Linked DNA regions of Homo sapiens: all the other regions are linked to region 5. The links come from fine-mapping of genetic effects on gene expression. A gene starts in region 5. Each other region holds a variant in brackets. All regions are shown on one strand. Distances are from middle to middle.

Region 1 (4,059 bases), 27 kb before region 5:
AGCTGTCTACGTCCTCTGCATACCTCGTCACCACACCCTCCACAACAGCCCCATGAGGAGACTCATCCTGGCCTTCTTCACAGGGGCAGAGGGCAAGGGGCCTTGCCAAGGTCTCAGGGCTGGGGACAGAGCCGGCCCAGGGGAGGTACCTGGAGTGGGGTGAAGGCCACGCTGGAGGCCGTGCCCGAGGAGCGGTCGCGGATGGTGGACTTCCCGCCATATACGACGCTCTGCTTCTGCAGGGTCCGCTGTGGGGAGGACAGGGAGGCTGCGATCTGGGCTCCCCCCACCTTGTGTCCCTCGGTCCCCAGCCCCACCTGGGTCTGGCCCATACCTGCAGCGTCTTGGAGATCCTGGCCTTGGTGGCCTCGTTTACCTGTGTCTGCCGCACACGCCCACTGCCCGACTTGCCCAGGTGGCCCAGGCTGAATCCCAGGTCCTCCTGGTAGGCGTCCTCCTCGATCTAGGGGGGAGAGGAGGCGCCCTGCAGTTCAGCGACCAGGCCCTGCCCTCCAGCCACCGAGGCACCCCCTCCACCAGCCCGAAGCCCAGCGGTCACCAGCCGGCCGGTCCCACGGGCACCTGCTCCGGTACCCACTCGGCCCGGCTGAGGCCTGGGGGCCCACACACGCGGGGGATGCTGGGGAGCCTGAGAGGGGCCCGGTCCCAGCACTGCTCTGTGAGCTCAGAGTTGGGAGGCCATTCCTTCCTTACTCGTGTGGGTCGGGGGATGTCAGGAACCAGAACAGGTTTAATAGGATGAGGTGGCCTCTGAGTTCGGTCCTGCAGGACCAAGGGGATGACGCTGGGATAACAGAGGAGACTGGCGGGGCCCAGGGACGGGGCGGCCGTGCAGCAGGGCACTAAGGAGCCTCTGGGCAGGGAGGAACCGGCCAAGGAGCCCGGGGCGATGGGAAGCCGCGGGGGCTCTAAGCAGCGGAGACACAGGCTCCAAGGGTCGCGAGGGTCGCTTTGGGGCTGAACGGATGGAAACGAGAATAGAGGCCGGGGGGGGGGAGGCTGGGGCAGCGCCCTAGACATGAGCCAGGGCCACAGGACGAGAGGAGGGGCGGTGGCAGGAGGCAGAGGGCGGTGGCGGCTGGCTGGCTGTGGGGTTGAGGAGGGCGCTCTGGGAGTCTGACCTCTCCGAAGCTCATACGGTTGGCCTGCTTCCGGATCTCCGTCAGCCCCAGCCGCTCCTTCATCTTGCGGTACCTGGGGACGGGTGGGTGGGCGGCGCCAGGGAGTCGGCTGGGAGGAGGACGCCGGCTTCTCCCCTCCATGACCCCCATGCCTACCGGACCCCCAGGGCCCCTCACCTGCGGCCGCCTCGCTTCTTCCGCTGTCCATCCAGGGGCGCAGGCAGCGGCTTCACCTGCTTCACAGGCGGCGGCTCCTGCCACTTGTCGAATTTGCGCTCGATCTCATCCTTCAGTTCGTAGCCCACCTGGGGAGGGCGAGGGGGAGGTCCTGCAGCTGCTCGCGTGGGCTGCCCACCCAGGCCTCCTCTGAG[C/T]GGGCCCCCCGAGTATCCACGTGCCTTAGTTAAATCAGCACCTAATGCTGCCTCACCGCCACCCCCTTTCTTTTTCTTCTTGGTGTTGACTTAGCACCGCTAGACGCAGGACAGAGTTCACCTGTTGACTGTCTCTTTGACCCGGCCCCAACAAGAATGTCCACGCCACGGGGCAGGGGTCCTGTCTGTGCTACTCACAGCTGCACCCCCACACCCAGACCAGGGGTGAGATGGGGAGAGGGAAAGGAGAAGGGGACACGGAACACCTGAACGCTGTGCCAGGCCGGGTGCTTGGCAAACGACAGTTCACAAGACAGAAAACGTCTCCTCTCCCGAGTACATCTACCAAGGAAGACAGAAGGTAACTGAATAATTACTTGAATAACATCCCCTGTTGCAGCGGGGACAGATCCTGGTGTGGAAGGCAAATTACGCCCCCACCAACACACACATGCCCAAAGAGGCCCATGTTCTAATTCCCAGAATCACAGGGCAAAAGGGACGTGAAGAGGTTAAGAAGGATTTTAAGGATTGTGAGCTGGGAAGACTATCCTGGACCATCTGAGTAGGCTCAGTATAGCCACAGGGGCCCTTAAAATAGAAGAGGGGAACAAAAACAGAGGCGGAGATATGAAGACAGAAGCAGAGTCAGAGAGAGGTCTGAGGGTGCTATGTGGCTGGCTCCGCAGACAGAGGGAGGGCCACGAGCTAAGGGGTGCCAGTGACCCCTAGAAGCTGGAAAAGACCAGGGAATGGATTATCCCTTGAATCCCCCAGAAGGAACGCTCCAGGATGACACCCTGACTTCAGCCCAGTGAAACTCATTTTGGACTTCTGACCTACAGGACCACAGATAATAAACCTGTACTGTTTTTTGTTTTTGTTTTTAGATGGAGTCTCGCTATGTCACCCAAGCTGGAGTGCAATGATGCAATCTCAGTTCACTGCAACCTCCGTCTCCCAGGTTCAAGCAATTCTCCTGCCTCAGCCTCCTGAGTAACTGGGATTACAGGTGCGTGCCACCACACCCGGCTAATTTTGGTAGAGATGGGGTTTCACCATGTTGGCCAGGCTGGTCTCAAACTCCTGACCTTGTGACCCGCCCACCCTGGCCTCCCAAAGTGCTGGGATTACAGGCGTGAGCTACTGCACCCGGCCACACCTGCACTGTTTTAAGCCAGTAGGTTCATGCTACCTTCCAACAGCAGACCTAGGAAACCCCACTGGGGAAGGGGGTGCCTGACCCCAGGGAGGGTGGGCAGAAGCACTGCCTCCGCCTTGGTAGGACAGTGCTCGCTGGGGTGGGCTCCCTGCTGAGGGTCTCCCTGCAGAGACACCCCAGGCCCAGAGGAAAAGACGCCCGGCCGCCCCTCACCTTTCCCTCCTCACCTTCCCTTCTGTGCTCTCGTGGAAACTGTCCACACGGGCTGCCAGTGTGCACTTGGCGGCCACCAGCCGGGCCGCTTTCCGCCGCAGATCCTGGAGCAACGGAAAACGGGGGTGGAATCTGTGTGAGACAGACAGACAGAGGTAACAGCAAAGCAACCGCGCGCGCTCCTCCTCTGGCTCTACCTGGGGTCCTGGAAGGGGGCTTTCCACCCTTGGGCTCTAGAGGTGTGTGCTCTCAGCTCCTACTTCACAGGAAGAGGGGATGAGGGCAGGGCACAGAGCCATGTCCCAGCTGATAAGTGGCCATCAGGTAAGGATGACAGTAAGGCACGCTGACAACGAGGACGGTGGTGACTGTGGAGACGCCGGGGGGAGTGCACTCGGCCTGGATGCCAGCCCCATGCTAAGCACGCCCCTCGGATCATCTCATCAAATATTCAAATATCGGGCTGGTGTGATCATTGCACCCCCTTTTCAGATGTGGAAACCAAGGCTTCAAGTCATGTGGCCAGGGAGACAGCCAGCAGGTGATGGAGCCAGGGTTCCAATCCAAACTGCAAACAGAGCCCAGCTGTCAGCCACAGTGAAGCGATGGCCAGCCCTGGCCTCCCTTACAGGCCTGTGGTGTCTACGGCCTGTGCCTGGACCGATGTGAGATGGCCAAATGAAGAGGCAGAGGCCTGGGTGACAAGACATCAGGCTCCCTGGGGCAGGTTTAACCCATATGCCCAGGGCTGTGAGGCGGTGGCGATGGCAGGGGTGCAGTGAGGCAGCTGGAGCCCCGAGCCCCAGGCCCACCCGTCCTGGGTTCTATCGCCCACTCTCTCTCCTCCCAGGATGGGGTGACCTGCCAGCCTCCCTGGGTGTGTTCCAGTAGCAGTGCCTGACCTAAAGGGTCGCAGAAAAGACCACAAAAAAAACCCCACACAGGGCTGGGGGGTGGGGCCAGGAAGTGCCTGCCCAGCCTTGGCCATCAGTGCTATTGTTCTCCCCATCCCTGGGGGAGGCCAGGCAGGGCACAGGGCCGTGAGCCTGAGGTAACTCGCCACAGTTGGACAGAGCAGGGTCTGGACCCAGGCCTGTCTGTCCCAGAACCTGTCTTGCTTGTTTTTTTTTTTTTTTGAGACAGAGTCTCACTCTGTCACCCAGGCTGGAGG
Region 2 (4,065 bases), 43 kb after region 5:
GAGGCTGAGGCGGGTGGATCACTTGAGCTCAGGAGTTTGAGACCAGCCTGGGCAACATGGTGAAACCCCATCTCTACAACAACAACAACAAAAATTAGCTGGGCACGATGGCACACACCTGTAGTCCCAGCTACTCTGGAGCCTGAGGTACGAGTATCACTTGAACCCAGGGGGTGGAGGAGGTTGCAGTGAGCTGAGACTGCACCACTGCACTCCAGCCTGGGTGACACAGCGAGACTCTGTCTCAAAACAAAACAAAACACTGCAATCACAGAAAATACCAGAAAAAAGCATAGGTGAATGTTGAACAATTTCTAGATGGTGAAAGGATTACTCATGAAAGCAATTCAATACATCAGAAAAGGTTGCTGGGCCGGGGGCAGTGGCTCACGCCTGTAATCCCAGCACTTTGGGAGGCCGAGGCGTGTGGATCACCTGAGGTCAGGAGTTCAAGACCAGCCTGGCCAACATGGTGAGACCCTGTCTCTACTAAAAATGCAAAAATTAGCCAGGTGTGGTGGCGGGTGCCTGTAGTCCCAGCTACTCGGGAGGCTGAGGCAGGAAAATTGCTTGAACCTGGGAGGCGGAGGTTGCAGTGAACTGAGATCATGTCATTGCACTCCAGCCTGTGCAACAGAGCAAGACTACATTTCAAAAAAAAAAAAAAAAAAAGAAAGAAGAAGTTGCTGGAATTTTCTCCATACACGTAGCTTCTGAATGACAAACAATGGAACAAAAGTAAGAGGTAAGTCTGGGGAGATATCTGCCAAAAATATATACATATATGTAATACATATATTTAATATATATATTATATTTATATATGTATTATATGTAATATGTGTACATATACTTAATACATTTATTATATATAATACATATATACATTATATATATATATATATCTCAGACCTATAAAGAGCTAGTCATACGTTCTCTGCTGGATTTGTACTCAAGGACAAGCACATAATTTTTCTCTCATTGAGATTTCTCTTCCAGGGCTGTGTCTGGGCTACGAAGATGAGAAAAAGAATGGTGAGTTTTCTCCTACTTAAACTTTTATTCCTGCATCCCACGCTTCATGACCTTTTCCTTTAATCGTCTGAATTCTAGACTCAAATTAACTCTGAATTGTTTCCAGAGAAACCGCCCAAGCCCTCCCTCCACGCCTGGCCCAGCTCGGTGGTTGAAGCCGAGAGCAATGTGACCCTGAAGTGTCAGGCTCATTCCCAGAATGTGACATTTGTGCTGCGCAAGGTGAACGACTCTGGGTACAAGCAGGAACAGAGCTCGGCAGAAAACGAAGCTGAATTCCCCTTCACGGACCTGAAGCCTAAGGATGCTGGGAGGTACTTTTGTGCCTACAAGACAACAGCCTCCCATGAGTGGTCAGAAAGCAGTGAACACTTGCAGCTGGTGGTCACAGGTGAGAAGGGCAGATGTACTCTTTGATGCACACATTTCTTTGGTTTGGCTTTGCTTTTTTTTTTTTAAGACAGAGTCTTGCTGTGTCTCCCAGGCTGGAGTGCAGTGGCACGATCTCGGCTCACTGCAACTTCTGCCTCCTGGGTTCAAGCAATTCTCCCTCCTCAGCCTCCCGAGTAGCTGGGACTACAGGCGCCCGCCACCACGCCCAGCTAATTGTTTGTGTTTTTAGTAGAGATGGGGTTTCGCCATGTTAGCCAGGATGGTCTCCATCTCCTGACCTTGTGATCCACCTGCCTCCGCCTCCCAAAGTGCTGGGATTACAGGCATGAGCCACCGCGCCCGGCCTAATTTTTGTATTTTTAATAAAGATGAGGTTGTACCATATTGGTGAGGTTGATCTCAAACTCCTGACCTCAAGTGATCCATCTGCCTCGGCCTCCCAAAGGGCTGGGATTATAAACGTGAACCTCCACACCCAGCCTTTTTTTTTTTTTTGAGAGGGAGTCTTGCTCTGTTGCCCAGGCTGGAGTACAGTGGCATGATCTCAGCTCACTGCAACCCCCGCCTCCTGGGTTCATGCAATTCACCTGCCTCAGCCTCCCGAGTAGCTGGAACTACAGGGGTGCGCCACCACACCTGGCTAATTTTTGTATTTTAGTAGAGACAGGGTTTTACCATGTTGGCCAGGCTGATCTCGAACTGCTGACCTCAAGTGATCTGCCCACCTCAGCCTCCCAAAGTGCTGAGATTACAGGAGTGAGCCACTGCGCTCGGCTGCTTTTTTTTTTTTTGACAGAATCTCGCTCTGTCACCCAGGCAGGAGTGCAGTGGCATGAACACAATTCACTGCAGCCTCGACCTCCCAGGCTCAAG[C/T]GATTTTCCCACATCAGCCTCCCAAGTAGCTGGGAGTACAGGCAAGCACCACCATGCCTGGCTAATTTTTAAATTACTTGTTGAGACAGGATCTATGTTGCCCAGGCTGGTCTTGAACTCCTGAGCTCAGGTGATCCTCCTGCCTTGGCCTCCCAAAGTGCTGGGATTACAGGCGTGAGTCACCAAAGCCTGCCTGATGCACGTATTTCTTTTCCTGTCGTGGGACATGGCTGGGGAAGAAGGAATCTAGGAGACAAAAAGATAGATGCAGGCCAGGCACGGCGCGGTGGCTCATGCCTGTAATCCCAGCACTTTGGGAGGCAGAGGTGGGCAGATCACTTGAGGTCGGGAGTTCGAGACCAGCCTGGCCAACATGGTGAAACCTCACCTCTACTTAAAATACAAAAATTAGCTGGGCGTGGTGGCAGGCGCCTGTAATCCCAGCTACTAGGGAGGCTGAGGCAGGAAGAGAATCTCTTGAGCCCAGAAGGCAGAGGTTGTAATGAGCTGAGATTGTGCCACTGCACTGCAGCCTGGATGAAAGAGCAAGACTCCGTCTAAAAAAAAAAAAGAAGAAGAAGGATAGATGCAACACCTTCAATGTGGAAATGGGAACCGAATGTGGAGCAAGATTCTCATCAGAGATTCTGAGAGGGTCCCAATGATGTGGATGTGGGAGGGTGGTGTAGAATATGGTCAGTTAATAGAAAATTGGGGTATGGTAAGACTGACAGACCAAGTGATGATTGCCATGGAAAAGATGGTCTGTTACAGTTCCCAAGAGGAGGAGGAAGGCTATACTGGGGGGAGTATGTGGGGAAGCACCAGGGTCAATGAGGGGCAGAGGGAGGAGGAAGAACTGTGGACCAGAGCTTTGATTGTATTTTGTGGGGAGAACAAGATTAGAGTTGGCCAGGTGTGGTGGTTCATGCCTGTAATCCTAGCACTTTGGGAGGCCTAGGAGGGTGGATCACCTGAGGTCAGGAGTTTGACATCAGCCTGGGTAACATGGCGAAACTCCATCTCTACAAAAATACAATAATTACCTGGGTGTGGTGGTGTGCACCTGTGCTTTCAGCTACTCGGGAGGCTGAGGCACGAGAATTGCTTGAACCCCAGAGGCAGAGGCTGCGGTGAGCCAAGATCGTGCCACTGCACTCAAGCCTGGGTGATAGAATGAGAACCTGTCTCAAAAAAAAAAAAAAAAAAAAAAAAAGAAAAGAAAAGAAAAGAAAGAAAGAAAAGAAAAACAAAAAAAGAATTGGCTTTGGGGTGTAGAGGCTGTCCCTGGTTGTCTAGTTCTTGGACCTGGGGTGATTAGGAGAGGACAACATTGACCTTGAGTGTGAGAGCCCCATAATTAAGGTGGTTGAGAGTATGGGCTCTGGATCTATTGGCTTGCATTTGAGGGACATCCTTGAGGACAAGTTGTTTACTGGCTCTAGAAATTAACTAACCCTGCGAGGGGAGGTCCCACCAAGGGCAGCAAGGCCCCAAGATGTTAAAGCATCAAATGCAGAAGATGAAAGACATGGTTAATACGGAGAGATGGATGAGATAGTCCCCAAGTGCAGTAGAAAATGGAAAAGCCCTGGCCCTTCTCTTTACCTCCATTGCCTTGTCCTCTTCAGGATCACTCCCAGAACCTTTGCTCTCAGTCAATGTAGACCCTGGGATGACTCCAGGTCTCAGGACACTTCGATGTCTCACTCCATACAATGGAACCGAATGTATTGTAATTGCTCTGTTGAAAATGGGGATCCC
Region 3 (4,065 bases), 48 kb after region 5:
TGCCATATCATGGGAAATCCCTGGAGAGACTTTACAGTCATCAGTGTAGTGTAGAAGTAGCCGTGGGTCCACACCAATGACTTAGCCTGGGCTTGGGGCATGATGAGTAACTGAATACTTAATGTTTCACCTCTGATTTACCCTCTTTCTGAGGCTCTTGATCAATGATACTCCAACAAGGTGCTCATCACTTTGATATTGATTTCAAATTGTATTCCCCATAACTCGTTCTTGTAGTCTTAAGAATTTCTGCACCCACACTTTAGCCCTAAAAGCCTCGCGATTATTTGCCATTTCCCAATTATGTTCTCTGGCATATCATCTACTGTTTCCTGATTTCTTCACCTCTATCGCAGCTGTACCATTACATCACAAGACAGGCTATAGTATCAATTTCCAGTGGTTGATTTTCCAGGTCAGCCTTCCATATACAATCTGTTTGCTGCTTTGCAAATCACTTTATTATACTACTTTTTACTTTTTTATTATACTACTTTTTACTTATTACAAAATGGGCATATAAATGCTTCCATTACAAAAAAAAATTAATGCAAAATACCTGGCACAAAAATAGCTGCCCATTCACCCTACAAATTCAGATACTTTGGTAGATCCTGAGCATATTGTAGGAACTGAGACAGACCAGGTCTCTGGCCAACAGGAGCTCACATTCTTCTTTGGAAGAAAGAAAGAAATAAGAGCAAGCTATCAGAGTAATTAAAAAACACATTATAGATGGAGAATAACTGTGAGAGGCATTGTATTAGTGATCTACAGCTGCATAACAAATTACCACTAATTTAGCAGCCTGAAACACCTATTTATTATCTCACAGTTGATGTGGGTCAGGAGTCCAGGCACAGCTTAGCTGAGTCCTCTGCTTTGGGTCTCATAAGGATGCAATCAAGGTGTCAACAAGGGCTGTGTTCTCATCTGGCTCATCTGGAGGCTTGACTGGGGAAGGGTCCATTTCTCCACTCCTGTGGTTGATAGCAATATCTGGTTCTTTATAGCTGTAGGATTCATGCTAGAATGATTCTGCAGCACTTGCAAGAAGAGAGATTGAGAGAGAGAGAAGAAAGAGAGAGCAAATGCCCTAGCAAACAGAGTTTTATGTAATGTAACATAATCAAGAGCATAACATCCCATCACCTTTGCCATAGCTATTGGTGAGAAGAAAGTCACAGATCTCCACACTCAAGGTGAGGGGATTAGACAAAGGCATGAACACCAGGAAGCAGGGCTCCTGAGTCTCCTGAGTGCCCCCTTAGGGTCTATCTGCCACAAGCATGAAGGATGAGAATGACCCAACCACACCGATATCTGGAGAACAGCCCTCCAGGGAGAGAGAGCAGCAAAAGCAAAGTCTCAGAAGTGTGAGTGTTCCTGGAATGATTGAGACACAGAAAGGAGGACATAAGGCAGGGCCTAGAGCATCTAGGATCTTGTGGGTGTTTGAACTGGTCCTAGAGTCTGCTTTGAAAGAACAGGAACCCACTGATGAAGTTGAGCTGGAGGATGGCATGATTTTATTTATATGCTGGAAGGGTCACTGGCTGCTTTTTTTTTTTTTTTTTTTTTTGAGACAGGGTCCCACTCGGTTGCCCAGGCTGGAGTGCAGTGGTGCAATCACAGCTCACTGCAGCCTTGACCTCCCAGGCCCAGGTAATCCTCCCACCTCAGCCTCCCAAGCATCTGAGATTACAGGCACAGGCCATCATGCCCGGCCTCTGGCTGCTTTTGGAAAATAAGGGACTAGATGTAGTAAGAGTTGGTGCGTTTCAGGCAATACGACTTTTTAAATTTAAAAATATCAAATTGACAAATGAAGATTGTATATATTCAAGGTATACAATCTGATGATTTGATCCACCTGTACATTGTGTAATGATTATCACAGTCAAATTAATTAGCACATCCATTGCCACCATGCTGAGCACCTGAACTTCTTCATCTTAGAACTGGAAACTTATACCCTTTCATCAACATCTCCGCATATATCATGCTAAACAAAATAAGCCAGACTCAGAAAGACAAATTCTGCAGGATCTCACTCATATGTGTAGTCTAAAAAAGCCAAACTCACAGAAGCAACTGGTGGTTGCCAGGGACTGGTGAGTAGGTGATATTTCATTTCATTTTTATTTTTATTTTTATTTTTTTTTTGAGACGGAGTCTGGCTCTGTCCCTCAGGCTGGAGTGCAGTGGCGCGATCTCGGCTCACTGCAAGCTCCGCCTCCCGGGTTCACGCCATTCTCCTGCCTCAGCCTCCCGAGTAGCTGGGACTACAGGGGCCCGCCACCACGCTCGGCTAACTTTTTGTATTTTTAGTAGAGACGGGGTTTCACC[A/G]TGTTAGCCAGGATGGTCTCGATCTCCTGACCTTGTGATCTGCCCGCCTCGGCCTCCCAAAGTGCTGGGATTACAGGCGTGAGCCACTGCGCCCGGCCAAGTAGGTGATATTTTAACTTAGACTAAATGGTGCCACTGTGGAGATAGAAATATAGGCCAGGTGCAGTGGCTCATGCCTGGAATCCCAGTATTCTGAGTGGCCAAGGCAGGTTGATCACTTGAGGCCAGGAGTTTGAGACCAGCCTGGCCAACATGGTGAAACCCTGTCTCTACTAAAAATACAAAAATTAGCAGGGTGTGGTGGCGGGCGCCTGTAGTCCCAGCTACTTGGAAGGCTGAGGCAGGAGAATCTCTTGAACCCGGGAGGCGGAGGTTGCAGTGAGCTGAGATCATGCCACTGCACTCCAGCTTGGGTAACAGTGCAAGACTCAAAAAAAATAAAAGAAAGAAAGAATTTGGGTGAATGGTGTTCTTTGTCAAGATAGAGAAGACTGGCAAGGAATCAAACTGGAGGGGGCGTTAGCAGGGTCATTCATAAATATTTTTGTTATTAAAAATACTATCAAACTCCAGGACTATTAAGAAGAGTAATCTGAGGCTCTGTCCATGCTCTGAGGACCCAGGGAGCATCTAGGGAATGGAGAAGCCATTCTCTTTTCTGCTTCCCAAAGAAGAACAGGATGTCTATAAGTAGGACGTGAGGACTCCTGTCCCCAAGGTTCCTGTATGATTAGTGTAATTCCTTTTCTTCCCTCCTATTTTCTAGATAAACACGATGAACTTGAAGCTCCCTCAATGAAAACAGGTAAGATAATTAGAAAGGAGATGTTTTTCCCAATGAGATCTGCTTCATGATCACCTTTGCTTAAAGTGCACAAGGAGAACTTTATTTATTTGTTTGTTTGTTTGTTTGTTTGTTTTTTGAGATAGAGTCTCGCTTTGTCACCAAGGCTGGAGTACAGTGGCGCAATCTCAGCTCACTGCAACCTTCGCCTCCCGGATTCAAGCAATTTTCCTGCCTCAGCCTCCCGAATAGCTGGGACTACAGGCACGCACCACCACACCCAGCTAATTTTTGTATTTTTAGTAGAGACGGGGTTTCACCATGTTGGCCAGGCTGGTCTCGAACTCCTGACCTTGTGATCTGCCCGCCTCAGCCTCCCAAAGTGCTGGGATTACAGGCGTGAGCCACCGCACACGGCCTATTTATTTTTTTGAGAAAGAGTCTTGTTCTGTCCCCCAGGGTGGCGTGAAGTGGCACAATCTCAGCTCACTGCAACCTCCACTTCCTGGGTTCTGGGTTCAAGCAATTCTCCTGCCTCGGCCTCCCGAATAGCTGGGATTACAGGCACCCACCACCATATCCAGCTCAGTTTTGTTTTTTGTTTTTTGTTTTTAGTAGAGATGGGGTTTCACCATGTTGGCCAGGCTGGTATCAAACTCCTGACCTCAAGCAATTCCCCCGCCTCGGCCTCTCAAAGTGTTGGGATTACAGGCATGAGCCACCGCACCCGGCCTAGAAGAACTTTAAAGCCCATTTTCTCAATGTTATTGGGGAAACTGCTGTGTTTTGGGGGGTGGAGGATGAGGGGAGATAACCTCTAAAGTGCTTCCGGGTTCTGAAGAAGCTGGTGTGTAAAACAGCACAGAGTGCGTTGTTTGCCATATGACATGATGAAAAACTAGGGTGGGATTTGGGGAATAATGGGGGTGAAT
Region 4 (4,059 bases), 66 kb before region 5:
AGAAAGAAAAGAAAAGAAAAGAAAAGAAAAGAAAAGAAAAGAAAAGAAAAGAAAAGAAAAGAAAAGAAAAGAAAAGAAAAGAAAAGAAAAGAAAAGAAAGAAAAGAAAAGAAAGAAAGAAAGGAAGGCGCGGCTGGACCCCAGTCCAGGGGTAGGAGGGGCTGGTCCTGCTCCCGGGAAGGAACCTGAGCCTCTCTCTGCTGCCCCCTGCAGGCCAGTTTGGCGCCGGCACGGAGTCCTACTTCTCCCTGCTGCGCTTCCTGCTCCTTCTTAACGTGCTGGCCTCTGTGCTCATGGCCTGCATGACGCTGCTGCCCACCTGGTTGGGAGGCGCTCCCCCAGGCCCTCCCGGCCCCGACATCTCCTCGCCCTGCGGCTCCTATAACCCCCACTCCCAGGGCCTGGTCACCTTTGCCACCCAGCTCTTCAACTTGCTCTCGGGTGAGGTAGGTGCCTGGGTCCCTGGGGGATTCCCCGCCCACCTGTGACCCCAGTGCCTTCAATGACACGAACCTCAAACCCTGACCCCAGACCCTGACTGTGCAGCTCCAGGAGCCCCGCCTCCTCCCACAGTGGCCCCTGCGCCGCCTTCCCCCCACAGGGTTACCTGGAATGGTCCCCTCTCTTCTATGGCTTCTACCCGCCCCGCCCACGCCTGGCGGTCACCTACCTGTGCTGGGCCTTTGCCGTTGGCCTCATCTGCCTCCTGCTCATCCTGCATCGGTCAGTGGCACCTGCACCCCTGACCCCTGACGGGACGGGTTGGGGTGGGGAAGCAAGTGGTGGTGGCAGAAACCCCCTCCCCAAGAATCCTCAGTCTTTTTTTTTTTGAGACGGAGTTTTGCTCTTATTGCCCAGGCTAGAGTGTAGTGGCGCAATCTCGGCTCACTGCAACCTCCGCCTTCCGGTTTCAAGCGATTCTCCTGCCTCAGCCTCCCAAGTTGCTGGGATTACAGGCGCCCGCCACCACGCCCAGCTAACTTTTTTGTATTTTTAGTAGAGATGGGGTTTCACCATGTTGGTCAGGCTGGTCTTGAACTGCTGACCTCGTGATCCACCCGCCTCGGCCTCCCACAGTGCTGGGATTACAGGCGTGAGCCACCGCGCCCGGCCCCAGAATCCTCGGTCTTGCTGTGTAACCCTTTATTCTGTGTGAGTTAAAATCAAGGTTTTGGGCCAGGAGCGGTGGCCCAGGAGGTGGAGCTTGCAGTGAGCCGAGTTTGCGCCACTGCACTCCAGCCTGGGCGACAGAGAGAAACTCCATCTAAAAAAAAAAAAAAGATCAAGGTTTTGGGATTTGTTTTTGTTTTTCATTTGTTTTGTTTGTTTGTTTTTGAGACAGAGTCTTACTCTGTCGCCCAGGCTGGAGTGCAATGGCACGATCTTGGCTCACTGCAACCTCCACCTCCCGGGTTCAAGCGATTCTACTGCCTCACCCTCCCAAGTAGCTGGGTTTACAGGCTCCGGCCACCACGCCCAGCTAATTTTTTGTATTTTTAGTAGAGACGGGGTATCGCCATGTTGGCCAGGCTGGTCTCGAACTCCTGATCTCAGGTGATCCACCTGCCTCGGCCTCCCAAAGTGCTGGGATTACAGGTGTGAGCCACCGCACCCAGTCTGTTTTGTT[T/C]TTTGAGACAGGGTCTCACTCTGTCACCCGGCTAGCGTGCAGTGGTGCAATCATAGCTCACCGGAAGCCTGGGCCTCCGGAACTCAACTGATCCGCCTACCTCAGCCTCGGGAGCAGCTGGGACCACAGGGGTGCACCACCATGTCTTGCTAAAAATTTTTTTTTAATGTTATAGAGACAGGGTCTTGCTATGTTGCCCAGGCTGCGCTCAAACTCCTAGGCTCAAGAGATCTGCTCACCTCAGCCTCCCAAGGTGCTGGAATTACAGGCATGAGCCAATGTGCCTGGCCAAAAGTCAACTTTTTTTTTTTTTTGAGACGGAGTCTCGCTCTGTCACCCAGGCTAGAGTGCAGTAGTGCGATCTCAGCTCACTGCAACCTCCGCCGCCCGGGTTCAAGCAATTTTCCTGCCTCAACCTCCCAAGTAGCTGGGATTACAGGCATGTGCCACCATGCCCGGCTAATTTTGTATTTTTAGTAGAAATGGGGTTTCACCATGTTTGTCAGGCTGGTCTCGAACTCCTGACCTCAGGTGATGCACCCGCCTCGGTCTCCCAAAGTGCTGGGATTACAGGCGTGAGCCACCACGCCCGGCAAAGAGCCTCGATTTTAAGAGAAGGGAAAAGCCCTGGAATAGGTCTTAAACAGGGGAATACGGTCTGAGTTGCATCAAAAGAAGGTCCCACTGGCTCAAGAACTGAGAATGGATTATATGCGGGCACAAGTGGAAGCAAGGAGACCATGTGAGGGCCCTCTGTGGTTGTTCACATGAGAGATGATGGGGGCCGGGGCCAGGGCAGTGAAGGTGCACATGGTCTCTTTGTCCAGTTCTGTTTCTGCCCCTGCTGGGGTTCTCTATCTCCTTCCTGGGTCTTTGCCCCCCTCTCTTGAGTCTCTTTACCTGCCCGTCTTCTCTGGGTCTTTTTTTTTTTTTTTTTTTTTTTGGAGGCGACCTCCACCTCCTGGGTTCAAGTGATCCTCCCACCTCAGCCTCCCAAGTAGTTGGGATTACAGGCATGCACCACCACGCCTGGCTAATTTTTGTATTTTTAGTAGAGACGGGGTTTCACCACATTGGCCAGGCTGGTCTCAAACTCCTGACCTCAGGTGATCCTCCCCCCTCGGCCTCCCAAAGTGCTGGGATTACAGGCGTGAGCCATGGCGCCTGGCCTGCCCCCTCTCTTGAGTCTTTACCTGCCATCTTCTCTGGGTCTCTGTCTTCTTCTCGGCTCTTCCCGCCGCAGCTCCCTTCTCTGTGTGCCTGTACTTCTTATGGGTCTTTGACCCCCATCTTTTGTAGATGTAGTTTCCCCTTTCTCACTGTCTTTTTCTCCCTTTCTCCGAATCTCCCTCTGGGGCCTCTGTCCCTCCTCCACATCTCTGTCTTCCTCAGGGCCTCTGTTTCTCTCACTCTGGGTTTCTGCCCCCTTCGCTCCGAGGCTCTGTCCCTGTCTCCTAGGTTTCTGCCTCTCTTTGGGGTGCCTGCACCCCAGAACTGTCTCTGAATCTCCCTTGGACTTTGCCTTCAATGACTGTGTCTCCGCCTCTTTGACTCTTTCCCCATCTGGTCTGGTGGGAACTCGCCTAGTACCCAAGGCCTTAGGGTTCATCTTCCCCATTTGTCCCAATATGAGGGGTCTCCCCATAACCCCCGTTCCTGGCTGTCCTTTCACTTCCCGTCTCCCGGGTCTCCCCTCTCAGCTCGGTGTCTGGGCTGAAGCAGACACTGCTGGCGGAGTCCGAGGCTCTGACCAGCTACAGCCACCGGGTGTTCTCGGCCTGGGACTTCGGTCTCTGCGGGGACGTCCACGTGCGGCTGCGCCAGCGCATCATCTTGTACGAATTAAAGGTGCGATTAGGGAGCGGGGTCTGCAACTGGGTAGGGACCAGACAGGACCGGGCTGAGATAACGCACAGGGCCTAACTCGGTGATGGGGCCTCCGGAGAGATGCTAAGCAGCTCCTTCTCCAAGAAAGGCAGGTCCTGGGGAATGAGAAGGTTGAGAGGAGGCCGAGATAGGGCTGCCCGAGCTCCAAGCGTGTAGGAAAAGGATGCGCCAGGGCTGGGATCGGTGGCTAATGCTTGTAACCCCAGCACTTTGGGAGACCGAGACAGGTGGATCGCTTCAGTCTAGGAGTTCGAGACCAGCCTGGGCAACATAGGGAGGCTCCCTCTCTACCAAAAAAAAAAAAAAAAAGTTTGTTTTTTTTTAAGTAAGCACAAGAAGCGGGCGGGGCCTAAGGCAATTTGGTTCAAAGTTAAGTGATGGGAGCGGCCAGCAGGGCGTCTTGATACAGCTGAACTGGAACTTCAGGCCAGGAATAAAGCGCAGGGCCACCTGGGGGCGGAGCCTCTGATGGGCAGGGCTGACCAGGGGCGGGTCTTGGGATGCTGGGCGGAGCCTCAGGGGCGGGGCCTGGGGTGCTGAGATTGA
Region 5 (4,065 bases):
GCCGCACCTCAGTCCCAGGACCGCCCAGAGGTTCCCAGAACTACCCGAGCCCCGTGCGCCACCGGCACCTGCACTTACTCGCAGCCATCTTTGTCTCCGCGGCGGCGACAGCGGCGAGGACGCGGAGCACCCTGGGAGTTGTGGTCCCTATGCGCGAGAACCCGCTCCCAGGGCTGCGCGTGCGCCCTGGAGCACAAGTAGAGGCGAAAGCAAGGACGCGGAGCACTCTGGGAGTTGTGGTCCCTCTGTGCGACGGCCCGCTTTCGGAGCCTGCGCGTGCGCACTCGCGCAGAACAAAGATGGAGCCGTGGAGGTAAAGGAAGTGGTGTCAGGAGCAAGCGCAAGCCTGACTTTGCGGACCTGCGTGGAATCTCCTTAGTCTCAGCCTAGAAGTCGCTCCGGAGTGACTAGTCCTCCTGCTGCGACCCACCTAAGGCGGAACAAAATAGTCCCCATTTTATAGTTTATGTATGAAAGCCCATTTTACAGACGAAGAAACTGAGCCCGGGAGAAGGTGAATGACTAACCTGTCCTTCGAGGTCTCAGCTCAACATCGGCTCGTCCTGGAAGCGCTAGGTCTCATCCCAGATGGGTTAGGAGCTTTCTGCGGGCTCTCACAGTGCTCTGTTACCGCCATTATAGCTCAGATCACTTAAGAAACTGACCTGGTCTGGGCCAGGCGCGGTGGCTCACGCCTGTAATCCCAGCACTTTGGGAGGCCGAGGCGGGCGGATCACGAGGTCAGGAGATCTAGACCATCCTGGCTAACATGGTGAAACCCTGTCTCTACTTAAAAATACAACACAAATTAGCCGGGCGTGGTGGTGGGCGCCCGTAGTCCCAGCTACTGGGGAGGCTAAGGCAGGAGAATGGCGTGAACCCGGGAGGCGGAGCTTGCAGTGAGCCGAGATCACACCACTGCACTCCAGCCTGGGCGACAGAGCGAGACTCCGTCTCAAAAAAAAAGAAACTGACCTGGTCTTGGTCTTTCAGTCGGACTGGTAGCTGCTGCTTGAGAGCAGTAACGGAGTCTGAGTTCCCTCTGTGCCTGCCAACATGGCACAGCGAGGGTCTGGCACGTAATAGGTTCTAATTTTTTTTTTTTTCTTCTGAGATTGAGTCTAGCTCTGTCGCCCAGGCTGGAGTGCAATGGCGCGATCTCGGCTCACAGCAACCTCCGACTCCCGAGTTCAAGCGATTCTCCTGCCTCAGCCTCCTGAATAGCTGGGATTACAGGCGCGCGCCTCCACAGCCGGCTAATTTTTCTTTTTTAGGAGAGACGGGGGTTTCTCCATGTTGGTCAGGCTGGTCTCGAACTTCCCGACCTCAGGTGATCCACCCGCCTTGGCCTCCCAAAGTGCTGGGATTACAGGCGTGAACAACCGCGCCCGGCCTAGAGGGGCTAATTTTTATCTATCTATCTATCTAACACAGTATCACACCAAGAGCCTGGCACATAATAGGTGCTAATTTTTCTCTGTCAACCAATCTATCAATCGATCAATTAATCACAGCAAGGGCCTGGCACATAATTGGTGTTAATTTTTATCTATCCATCAATCAATCACAGCAAGGGCCTGGCACTTAACAGGTGCTAATTTTTATCTATCTATCTATCTATCTATCTATCTATCTATCCATCCATCCATCTATCTATCTTTCAATCACAGCAAGGGCCTGGCACATAATAGGTGCAAATTTTTATCTATCTGTCAATCAATGACAGCAAGAGTCTGGCACATAATAGGTTCTTATTTTTAAAACAGACAGATATCTTTCTATCTGTCTATCTATATTTAAAGACATGGTCTCACTCTATCACCCAGGCTGGAGTGCAGTGGCACAATTTATTTATTTATTTTTTAGACAGGGTCTCGCTCTGTTGCCCAGGCTGCTCTTGAACTCTTGGGCTCAAGCGATCCTCCTGCCTCCACCTCCTGACTAGTATTTGTTTCTAGAGTTAAATAAATGAACACCACAGGTTATGACTGAACCCCCTGCTAATTTTTCCACAGTGCCATAGGGCTATGACACAGTCACCCACAGGCCCCCACCTCGATACTCTCTTCCGTAAATGAGGATCTGGGTCTGGTTTTCTGATGTTGCCTCATTTCCTGGGAGGGGAGAGGGTGCGACCAAGCCCTGGCTCCAGCTCTAGCGGGTATCTGCCCACCATGGCCCTGGTGCTGATCCTCCAGCTGCTGACCCTCTGTGAGTCACCCCTTTCTTCTCCCTGGGTTCCTGGCTGGGGTTGGGGGCAGAGAGAGAGGCAATGGAGACCCAGACACCCTGCAGGGGGACCAGGCAGCAGGTTTGGGATTCTAGGTTCAAATAAAGAACAGGGCTGGGGCCCAGACCCCTGGGTCCTAAAGCAAGAGAACACAGATTCCCGAAAGAGGAAGGAGGTGGGGACAGGTATCTCTGGTTCTTGAGGCAGGAAGAGGTCAGGAGACAGGGAGGACTCCCAGATTCTTATATGGGAGGGGGATGGAAGCCAGGACTCCTGATTCCCTGGGAAAAGGGGGCTGGGAACAGGGCTCTTAGCTCCTGAGAGAAGAGGGAAATGGGGACCCAGATTCCTGAACTCGTGAGAGGAGAAACTCTACGATCATTGTTCCCTGGAAAGGTGGAGTTCAAGGGCCTGAACTCTTGGTTGCCCAGGCCAGAGGGGTCTGCGTTCAGACTTCTTCGGTAGGTGGGCAATGGATGTCCAAATTTCTGCCTACTGAGACAGGAGGAGGGAGGGATAAGATTCTCATTTCCCAGAGGAGATAGGAGCTGGGAACTCAGATTCCTGGGTTACCAATGAGATGGGGCTGGCCACAAAGGGTTTTGAAAAGAACTCGCTGTTGGGCGCAGCGGCTCATGCCTGTGGGAGCCGAGGCCCAGCACTTTGGGAGGCCGAGGCGGGTGGATCACCTGAGGACAGGAGTTCAAGACCAGCCTGACCAACATGGCGAAACCCCTCTCTACTAAAAATACAAAGATTAGCCTGGTGTGGTGGCGGGCACTTGTAGTCCCAGCTACTACGGAGGCTGAGGCAGGAGAATCACTTGAACCTGGGAGGCAGAGGTTGCAGTGAGCTGAGATCACACCACTACACTCCAGCCTGGGCGACAGAGTGAGACTCTGCCTCAGACAAAAAAAAAAAAAGGAAAAAGAAACTAGTCCCTCAACCTCCTACAGGGCCTCTGTGTCACACAGACATCACTCCGTCTGGTGAGTAGCCACCCCATCCACTCTCCTTTTGTTGCTGACACCCCTTTTCCAATTACTCAGATTTTATTTTGGTGCCCAATCCCATCCCAGATATCCTTATTTTCCTCCCTCCCTCCATTCCTTCCTTCTTTTCTCATTCCCCTTAGTGGCCATTATAGGTGAGTACTGAAGACCAGGAACTTCTGAGGCAGAGGCCTAAGCTAGGACCTCAGTTTCACCATCGTATTCATTTATATGTGACCATATGACCTAGAACAAGTCACAGCTTGCTAAGACTCCATTTCCTTCTCTGTAAAATGGGCCGCTGTGAGATCTCATCAAATCACATGTGCAAAACCCTGAGCCTGGCACAGTACAGGGCTTAAGAAATAGGATCTTGGGCTGGGCGCAATGGCCAACGTCTGTAATCCCAGCACTTTGGGAGGCAGAGGCGGGCGGATCACAAGGTCAGATCGAGATCATCCTGGCTAATGTGGTGAAACCCCGTCTCTACTAAAAAAAAAAAAAAAAAAAAAAAATTAGCCGGGTGTGGTGGGACGCACCTGTAATCCCAGCTACTCAGGAGGCTGAGGCAAGAGAATCGCTTGAACCCAGGAGGCAGAGGTTGCAGTAAGCTGAGATCGCGCCACTGCACTCCAGCCTGGGTGACAGTGCAAGACTCCACTTCAAAAACAAACAAACAAACAAAAAAAACTCTTTTGGAGATATTTCAGTGTCGCTATAGCTATCTCTACCTATTTATTTTATTTATTTATTTATTTATTTTGAGACCAGTTTCTCTCTGTCGCCCAGGCCGGAGTGCAGTGGTGCAATCTCGGCTCACTGCAACCACCTCCTGGGTTCAAG
Region 6 (4,065 bases), 54 kb after region 5:
GCAGTGGCACAATCTCAGCTCACTGCAACCTCCGCCTCCCAGGTTTAAGTGATTCTTTTGCCTTAACCTCCTGAGTAGCTGGACCTACAGGCGCCCGTCACCATGCCTAGCTAATTTGTGTATTTTTAGTAGAGAGGGGGTTTCACCATGTTGGCTAGGCTGGTCTCGAACTCCTGACCTCAGGTGATCCACACGCCTCAGCTTCCCAAAGTGCTGGGATTACAGACTTGAGCTACTGTGCCTGGCCCCGTTCTTCTTTTGATGGACATTTGTGTTGTCTGCACCTCTTGGCTAAAGCGAGTAATGGTGCTGGAACACTGTGGTAGGAGTATCTGTTTGTCTCCGCGCTGTAAATTATCTTGAGTATGTACCTAGAAGTGGATTTGCTAGGACATATGGTGACTATTATGTTCAACTTTTTGAGGAACTGCCAAATCATTTTCCATTGTGGCTGTATCATGTTATATTCCTTCCAGTAATATATGTGGGTTCCAATATCTCCACATCCTTGTCAACACTTACTTTTCTTTTTTTAAATTATAGCCATCCCAGTGGGTATTATATAATTTCTTAAAATGTACTTTTTGAGTTCAAATTTGTATCATCACAATTCTAAACAGAATAAAATATCTTTGCCGGGCGCAGTGGCTCACGTCTGTAATACCAGGACTTTGGGAAGATGAGGCAGGAGGATCACTTGAGCCCAGGGGTTCAAGACCAGCCTGGACAACTTGGTAAGATCCCATCTCTACAAAAAATACAAAAATTAGCCAGGCGTGGTGGTGTGCACCTGTAGTCCCAGCTACTTGGGAGGCTCAGGCAGAAAGATCGTTTGCGCCCAGGAGGTTGAGGCTTCAGTGAACTGTGATTGCGCCACAGCACTCCAGCCTGGGTGACAGAGCGAGACCCTGTTTCAGTAAATAAATAAAATAAAAGTAAAATATCTGTAAGCACAGGTATGATGTCCCCAGCCTGTATTTATATGCCTAAAACACACTAGAAAACGACTCTATGTTCAATCGCAATGTAGAGAATGAAGATGAATTTTATCACACAAGACTTGACTTTCTTTCTGGTGCCTGTGCCTCCATTTATGCCCCGTGTCAGGCTGTATCTTGTTGCTCACGCTGACTTTAGTAGCGTAGCAAGTTATGATTTATTCTGGCAATTTGCAAATACTGATGCAACATTTGGCCAGGATCTGTGGACATCTCAGGGTGAACCCAGTTCAGCTGATTATGGGGTCATATGAAGATGAGAATTTTGCAATAATGTACTTCTCATTTCTAGTGAATTGCTGTGTGAAAGATACCGTAGGCTGGAAAAGGGGAGAACAGAAAGGACAAGGCAAGGCTGCTGTTTCTCTGCTTCCATCTGGGGAAACTGAGAGTCCAGGAGCAGCTGTTCCTGCCCTGTTTTCATAAGTCCTTGGAGATGCACTGATAGAATTGTTGCTTATGGCCAGGCATGGTGGCTTATGTAATCCCAGCACTTTGGGAGGCCAAAGTGGGCAGAACACTTGAGCTCTGGAGTTTGAGACCAGCCTAACCAACATGGTGAAACCTCATCTCTACTAGAAATATAAAAAATTAGCGGGGTGAGGTGGCGGGTGCTTGTAATCCCAGCTCCTTGGGAGGCTGAGGCAGGAGAATTGCTTGAACCCCAGAGGGGGAGGTTCCAAAGCCGAGATTGTACCACTGCACTCCAGCCTGGGAGACAGAGTGAGACTGTCTCAAAAAAAAAAAAATTGTTGCTTTTGAGGGGTTCTCTGATTCAGCTCCACCAGAAGCAGGCTCTTAGACAGCATTAGTGTGA[A/G]AGTGACGTTTTATTTTATTTATTATTTATTTAGTTTTGAGACAGAGTTTCGCTCTTGTTGCCCAGGCTGGAGTGCAATGGCGTGATCTTGGCTCACTGCAACCTCCGCCTACCAGGTTCAAGAGATTCTCCTGCCTCAGCCTCCCAAATAGCTGGGATTACAGGCATGCACCACCACACCCAGCTAATATTCTATTTTTAGTAGAGACGGGGTTTCTCCATGTTGGTCAGGCTGGTCTCGAACTCCTGACCTCAGGTGCTCTGCCTGCCTCGACCTCCCAAAGTGCTGGGATTACAGGTGTGAGCCACCACGCCTGGCTTGAAAATTACATTTTAGGGAGTGGGGAAGAAGGGCTGGGAGGAAAATAGATTAAACAAGTGTGGGATATCTGTGTCCCTCAGATGGTATCTTTGGCTCCATCCTGCAGAAAGCAGTGGAGACAGAGAAGGTCGAAGACCAGAGGCTAGGGAGCTGGGGTCCCCACAGCCGTCAGTGGCAGTTTGTCCCGGGCATGTAAATTCCAAGGCATTTGGAGTTCTCCCAGGCAGTCCCCCAAAGAAGAGATACAAATGTTCACTTTGGAAAGGGAAAGAAGCCACGATCTAGAATGCATAAAAATGGGAAAGGGATCTGGGGAACATGGGTTGAGGAACATTGACAGAATCTATTACAGAGAGAGATGGGTGTAGGTGGAATATTGGGTGAAAAAAAATCATCATTATACCTACAATCCCATTATCCGACACAATGAGTCAGTTTCTAGACTGAGCGCTTTAAAGCCAGGATTTTTCATCATTACCTAACTCTTCAAGTTAGATATTATTAGCTCTCTGCCCCCTCCTTATATTTAACCAAAAAATAACGTATTCCAGAAAGGGAAGGGAACATTTACAAAGTCAGGAGGTAGGAGACCCAGTACTAGAACTCAAATATGTCTTGTTTCAAACTCCCCACTCCTTTTGCTGCTCCCTGATGATCAGCTCAGAAAGAACCTTATTTCAGGGAGGGGGATAGATAGATAATTAGATGTGATAGATAATAGGCAAGTAGGCAGATAAATAGATAACTAGATATGATAGATTAGATAGATACATAGATGATAGGTAGATAAGTAGCTAGATACGATGGACAGATTAGATAGATAGACAGATGATAGGTAAGTAGGTAGATAGATAACTAGATACAACAGGTTAGATAAGTAAGTAGATAGATAACTAGATATGATAGATTAGATAGATAAATAGACGATAGGTAAGTAGGTAGATAGATACAGATAGATTAGCTAGCTAGCTAGATGATAGATAACTAGATATAATAGATAAGATAGATGATTAGATAGACAGATAATTAGATATGATTGATAGATACATTAGATAGATGATAGATTAGATAGATAGATGATAGGTAACTAGGTAGCTAGATAAAGCTAGCTAGATAGATAGATAGATATACAGATACACAGATAGATACATAGATACCTAGATAGGTGATAGAGTTGCAAGATAGAAAAATTAGATAAGTAGGTGGATAGATAGATAGATAACTAGATAGAATAGATTAAATAGATAATAGTAGGTGAATAGACAGATACATACAGATGATAGATGATAGATGATAGATAACTGGTTATGATTGATAGATACATTAGATAGATGATAGATTTGGTAACTAGATGATAGGTAAGTCGGTAGATAGATAAGTGATAATTAGATATGATAGGATGGATAGATTAGACAGACAGCAGGTAAGCAGGTGGATAGACAGATAAAGATAGATACATAGATGCCTAGATAAGTGATAGATTAACAAGATAGAAAAATTAGACAGACAGATAGTTAATTACATATGATAGGATAGATAGATTGGATAGGTGATAGGCAAGTAGGTAGATAGATAAATCATAATTAGATAGGACGGATAGATTGGATAGATGATAGGTAAGTAGGTACAGAGACAGATAAAGATAGATAGGTAGATAGATAATAGATACCTAGACAGATGGTAGATAGATTAGCGAGATAGATAAATTAGATAGGTAATTCTCTATATATAGATATGTAGAAATGCCAATGCAAACATAGCGAACCAAGTAGGGGAAGCGTCTGGATGGGAGACCCTCTGTTGGTGCAGAGGACCAGGCGTGTGAAGCATCTCAGACTTGGCTCTGTAATGTGACCACAGATCATTGCACACCTAGGAAAAATTCTCAGACTCAAAGCACACTAACAAAGATAGCGGGGGTCTTGGTG
Region 7 (4,065 bases), 29 kb after region 5:
TACTAAAAATAAAAAATTAGCCAGGTATGATGGCATGCACCTGTAGACCCAGCTACTTGGGAGGCTGAGGCAGGAGAATTGCTTGAACATGGGAGGCGGAGGTTGCAGTGAGCCAAGATCTTGCCACTGCACTCCAGCCTGGGCAATAGAGTGAGACTCTGTCTCAAAAACAAAAAACAAAAAACAAAAACAAAAACAACAAAACAACAAAAAAACCTCCCTTTCACAATTTCCACTCCTTTGCCTTTTTTTTTTTTTTTTTTTTTTTTGAAATGGAGTCTCACTCTGTTGCCAGGATGGAGTGCAATGGCGCGATCTTCGCTCACTGCAACCTCCACCTTCCAGGTTCAAGTGATTCTCCTGCCTCAGCCTCCCAGGTAGCTAGGATTACAGGCCTGCACCACCCATCCGGCTAATTTTTCTATTTTTAGTAGCGATGAAGGTTTCACCGTGTTGACCAGGCTGGTCTTGAACTCCTGACCTCAGGTGATCTGCCTGCCTCGGCCTCCCAAAGTGCTGGGATTACAGGTGTGAGCCACCGTGCCCGGCCCTCCTTTGCCTTTTTGTTATACTACATCCTTGGAAAATTTCTAGGCTGTTTTTGAAAATTATGAATCTACCAGCACCAGATTCCTTCTACCAGTCTTTGCATCTCTTAGCGTTTTGGTTTTTTGTTTTGTTTTGTTTCATTTTGTTTTTGAGACAGAGTCTCGCTCTGTTGCCCAGGGTGGAGTGCAGTGGTGCGATCTCAGCTCACTGCAACCTCTGCCTCCCGAGTTTAAGCAATTCTCCTGCCTCAGCCACTTGAGTAGCTGGGATTACATGTGCCCGCCACCACGCCTGGCTAATTTTTGTATTTTTAGTAGAGATGGGGTTCTGACCATGTTGACCAGGCTGGTCTTGAACCCCTGGCCTCAGGTGATCCGCTCACCTCGGCCTCCCAAAGGGCTGGGATTGCAGGTGTGAACCACTGTGCATGGCGTGTTTTGTTTTTTCTTGGTGTTAGTGATTTCACTCTCAATAATTCTTTCTCAGTCATGTGTGGTGGCTCAGGCCTGTAATCCCAGCACTTTGGGAGGCTGAGGCTGGAGAATTGCTTGAGCCCAGGAGTTTGAGACCAGCCTGGGCAACATAGTGAGACCCAGTTTCAAATTTAAAAAAAAAATTATCTCATCCTCAGAACATGGTGTTTGCACAGCCTCCTGCTTCTATGCCGTGGATGCGAAGTCTACCCATGTCTTTTATTGACTGCTAGAATTCTTCTGAAAGTATCTTGTTTCCTGCCTTACTGGGTGCTAGCACTCTGCTTCCTCAGCTCTGTAAATTATTTTTCATCTGTTGTAACTGCTGTAATGAGTTACATTACAGCTCTTGCCGGGTGCCTGGATGAAGCCCATTCATCAAGACAGAGGAATTGCAAAAAAGAGTTTAATACACATTGAGCCAGGTAAGTGGGAGACCAGAGTTTTTTTGTTTGTTTGTTTGTTTGAGACGGAGTCTTGCTCTGTTGCCCAGGCTGGAGTGCAGTGGCGCGATCTCGGCTCAATGAAACCTCTGCCTCCCAGGTTCAAACGATTCTTCTGCCTCAGCCTCCCGAGTAGCTGGGACTATATGTGTGCCACCCTGCCTGGCTAATTTTTGTATTTTTAGTAGAGATGGGGTTTTACCATATTGGCCAGGCTGGTCTCGAACTCCTGACCTCGTGATCTGCCCGCTTGGGCCTCCCAAAGTGCTGGGATTACAGGCATGAGCCACTGCACCTGGCCAATCAGAGTTTTATTATTACTCAAATCAGCCTCCCTGAAAATCTGGAGGCTAGGGTTTTGTTTGTTTGTTTGTTTTCTTTGAGATGGAGTCTCACTCTGTCGCCCAAGCTGGAGTGTAGTGGCACAATCTGAGCTCACTGCAGCCTCCACCCCCCAACCCCAGGCCCAGGTCAAGTAATTCTCCTGCCTCAGCCTCCTGAGTAGCTGGGATTACAGGCACCCGCCACCACACCCGGCTAATTTTTTTGTATTTTTAGTAGACATGGGGTTTCGCCATGTTGCCCAGGCTGCTCTCGAACTCCTGGCCTCAAGCAATCCTCCCACTTTAGCCTCCCACAGTGCTGGGATTACAGG[C/T]GTGAGCTACTGTGCCCGGCCTCAACTCAAACTTTCTCAGGTGCACTGCTGCACAGCAGTGTGTGCTGCGAGGATGCTGATCCAGCCACGGAATTCGGGGCTCTGTAGAGCTCCTTCCGTCTCATGTGCTGCCCCAAGACTATTCCTTAACATAAGGATGCGGGAGGAGAAAAGGCAATGTGGGAAGGTGGAAATGGGATAAAGAGCAAATAAACGAAGGAAGAGAGCTAAGGTGGAGTGAATATCAAGGAAGGAAGATAAAGGAACTCCCATTACAACTCATTAGGATTGCATATCTTGGCCGGGCGCGGTGGCTCAGGCCTGTAATCCCAGCACCTTGGGAGGCCGAGGCAGGCGAATCACTTGAGGCCAGGAGTTCGAAACCAGTTTGGCCAACATGGCGAAAACCCATCTCTATTAAAAATACAAAAATTAGCCGGGTGTGGTGGTAGGTGCCTGTAATCCTAGCTATTCGGGAGGCTGAGGCAGGAGAATCGCTTGAACCCAGGAGGTGGAGGTTGCAGTGAACCGAGACTGCGTCGCTGCACTCCAGCCTGAGCAACAGAGTGAGACGTCGTCTCAAAAACAACAACAAAGATTCCATCTTTTGTTTTCAGGGATTAAAACTTTAAAGAGCTCAATTATGGCCAGGCATGGTGGTTTATGCCTATAATCCCAACACTTTGGGAGGCCAAGGCGGGTGGATCACCTGAGGTCAGGAGTTCGAGACCAGCCTGACCAACATGGAGAAACCCCGTCTCTACTAAAAATACAAAATTAGCCGGGTGTGGTGGCACATGCTCATAATCTCAGCTGCTTGGGAGGCTGAGACAGGAGAATCACTTGAACCCGGGAGGCAGAGGTTGTAGTGAGCTGAGATTGTGCCATTACACTCCAGTCTGGGCAACAAGAGCAAAACTTGATCTCAAGAAAAAAAAAAAGTTCAATTAAAACTTTAAAGTACAGTGGACTACTGGCTAGAAAACATTAAGTGGGTGGCCGGGCGCGGTGGCTCACACCTGTAATCCCAGCACTTTGGGAGGCTGAGGTGGGCGGGTCACCTGAGGTCGGGAGTTCAAGACCAGCCTGGCCAACATGGCGAAACCCCGTCTCTACTAAAAATATAAAATTAGCCGGGCATGGTGGCACATGCCTGTAATCCCAGCTACTTGGGAGGCTGAGGCAGGGAGGCTTGAACCTGGGAGGCAGAGGTTGTGGTGAGCTGAGATTACACCACTGCACTCCAGCCTGGTCAACAAGAGTAAAACTCCGTCTCAAAAAAAAAAACCAAAAAACCGAAAACATTAAGTGGGTGATGATAGTCAGATTTGGTGGGGCCATTTGAGAAGGAGGGATACCCTCTGAGGGTCAGTGCTGAGCCCCTTCTCTCTTTCAGTTCCCCCAGGTACCACATCGAGCAACTACTCCCTGGGTAACTTCGTACGACTGGGTCTGGCTGCCGTAATTGTGGTTATCATGGGAGCTTTCCTGGTGGAGGCCTGGTACAGCCGGAATGTGTCTCCAGGTGAATCAGAGGCCTTCAAACCAGAGTGACTCCATCTTGAACCGGGGCTGGGTAAACTGAGGCTGCAACCTGCTGGACTGCATTCCCAGGGGGTTGAGGCTTTCTAAGTCACAGGATGAGACAGGTCACAACATACAGGTCACAAAGACCCAAAGACACAAAGATGCAACAAAGAAGCCAGCCAAAACCTGCCAAATCCAAGATGGCAACAAAAGTGACTTCTGGTCGTCCTCACTGCACATTATTTGCTAATTATAATGCATTTGCATGCTAAAAGACACTCCCACCGCCACCAAGACAGCTTACAGATGCCATGGCAACTTCCAGAAGCTAAACGAGGGAGGGACTCTCAGTTCCAGGGAAATCCCCTCCCCTTTCCTGGAAAACTCATGAACAGTCCACCCCTTGTTTAGCATACGA

What was found. PIP is the estimated chance that this variant, and not a neighbour inherited with it, causes the effect.
Region 1: its variant is fine-mapped to the expression of OSCAR in whole blood (INTERVAL, PIP above 0.99).
Region 2: its variant is fine-mapped to the expression of OSCAR in whole blood (TOPMed, PIP above 0.99).
Region 3: its variant is fine-mapped to the expression of OSCAR in testis (GTEx, PIP 0.98).
Region 4: its variant is fine-mapped to the expression of OSCAR in spleen (GTEx, PIP 0.97).
Region 6: its variant is fine-mapped to the expression of OSCAR in whole blood (TOPMed, PIP above 0.99).
Region 7: its variant is fine-mapped to the expression of OSCAR in whole blood (TOPMed, PIP above 0.99).

What each region holds. Positions count from the first base shown.
Region 1 is chr19:54,125,461-54,129,519 of GRCh38, reverse strand. PRPF31 (pre-mRNA processing factor 31) reads right to left here. Exons shown (of 14, transcript NM_015629.4): 9 at 2,903-2,992; 10 at 1,320-1,447; 11 at 1,143-1,215; 12 at 335-463; 13 at 150-248. Among named protein-coding and RNA genes, the nearest start is that of PRPF31-AS1, 4.8 kb to the right of the region's middle. The variant C/T (reference allele first, on the strand shown) is at 1,514.
Region 2 is chr19:54,055,667-54,059,731 of GRCh38, reverse strand. It overlaps VSTM1 (V-set and transmembrane domain containing 1), which reads left to right. Exons shown (of 9, transcript NM_198481.4): 2 at 1,000-1,035; 3 at 1,142-1,426. Among named protein-coding and RNA genes, the nearest start is that of VSTM1, 6.2 kb to the left of the region's middle. The variant C/T (reference allele first, on the strand shown) is at 2,302.
Region 3 is chr19:54,050,499-54,054,563 of GRCh38, reverse strand. VSTM1 (V-set and transmembrane domain containing 1) reads left to right here. Exons shown (of 9, transcript NM_198481.4): 4 at 3,116-3,154. Among named protein-coding and RNA genes, the nearest start is that of VSTM1, 11 kb to the left of the region's middle. The variant A/G (reference allele first, on the strand shown) is at 2,350.
Region 4 is chr19:54,164,834-54,168,892 of GRCh38, reverse strand. It overlaps TMC4 (transmembrane channel like 4), which reads left to right. Exons shown (of 15, transcript NM_144686.4): 4 at 213-445; 5 at 601-722; 6 at 3,327-3,474. Among named protein-coding and RNA genes, the nearest start is that of TMC4, 6.3 kb to the left of the region's middle. The variant T/C (reference allele first, on the strand shown) is at 1,627.
Region 5 is chr19:54,098,902-54,102,966 of GRCh38, reverse strand. OSCAR (osteoclast associated Ig-like receptor) reads left to right here and starts at 2,164. Exons shown (of 5, transcript NM_133169.6): 1 at 2,164-2,211; 2 at 3,187-3,219. The coding sequence starts at 2,175. NDUFA3 (NADH:ubiquinone oxidoreductase subunit A3) reads right to left here and starts at 112. Exons shown (of 4, transcript NM_004542.4): 1 at 79-112. The coding sequence starts at 88. RefSeq lists an enhancer at 1-323.
Region 6 is chr19:54,044,984-54,049,048 of GRCh38, reverse strand. All of the region lies in intron 4 of VSTM1 (V-set and transmembrane domain containing 1), which reads left to right. Among named protein-coding and RNA genes, the nearest start is that of VSTM1, 17 kb to the left of the region's middle. The variant A/G (reference allele first, on the strand shown) is at 1,816.
Region 7 is chr19:54,069,612-54,073,676 of GRCh38, reverse strand. It overlaps TARM1 (T cell-interacting, activating receptor on myeloid cells 1), which reads left to right. Exons shown (of 5, transcript NM_001135686.3): 5 at 3,517-3,782. The coding sequence ends at 3,674. Among named protein-coding and RNA genes, the nearest start is that of VSTM1, 7.7 kb to the right of the region's middle. The variant C/T (reference allele first, on the strand shown) is at 2,121.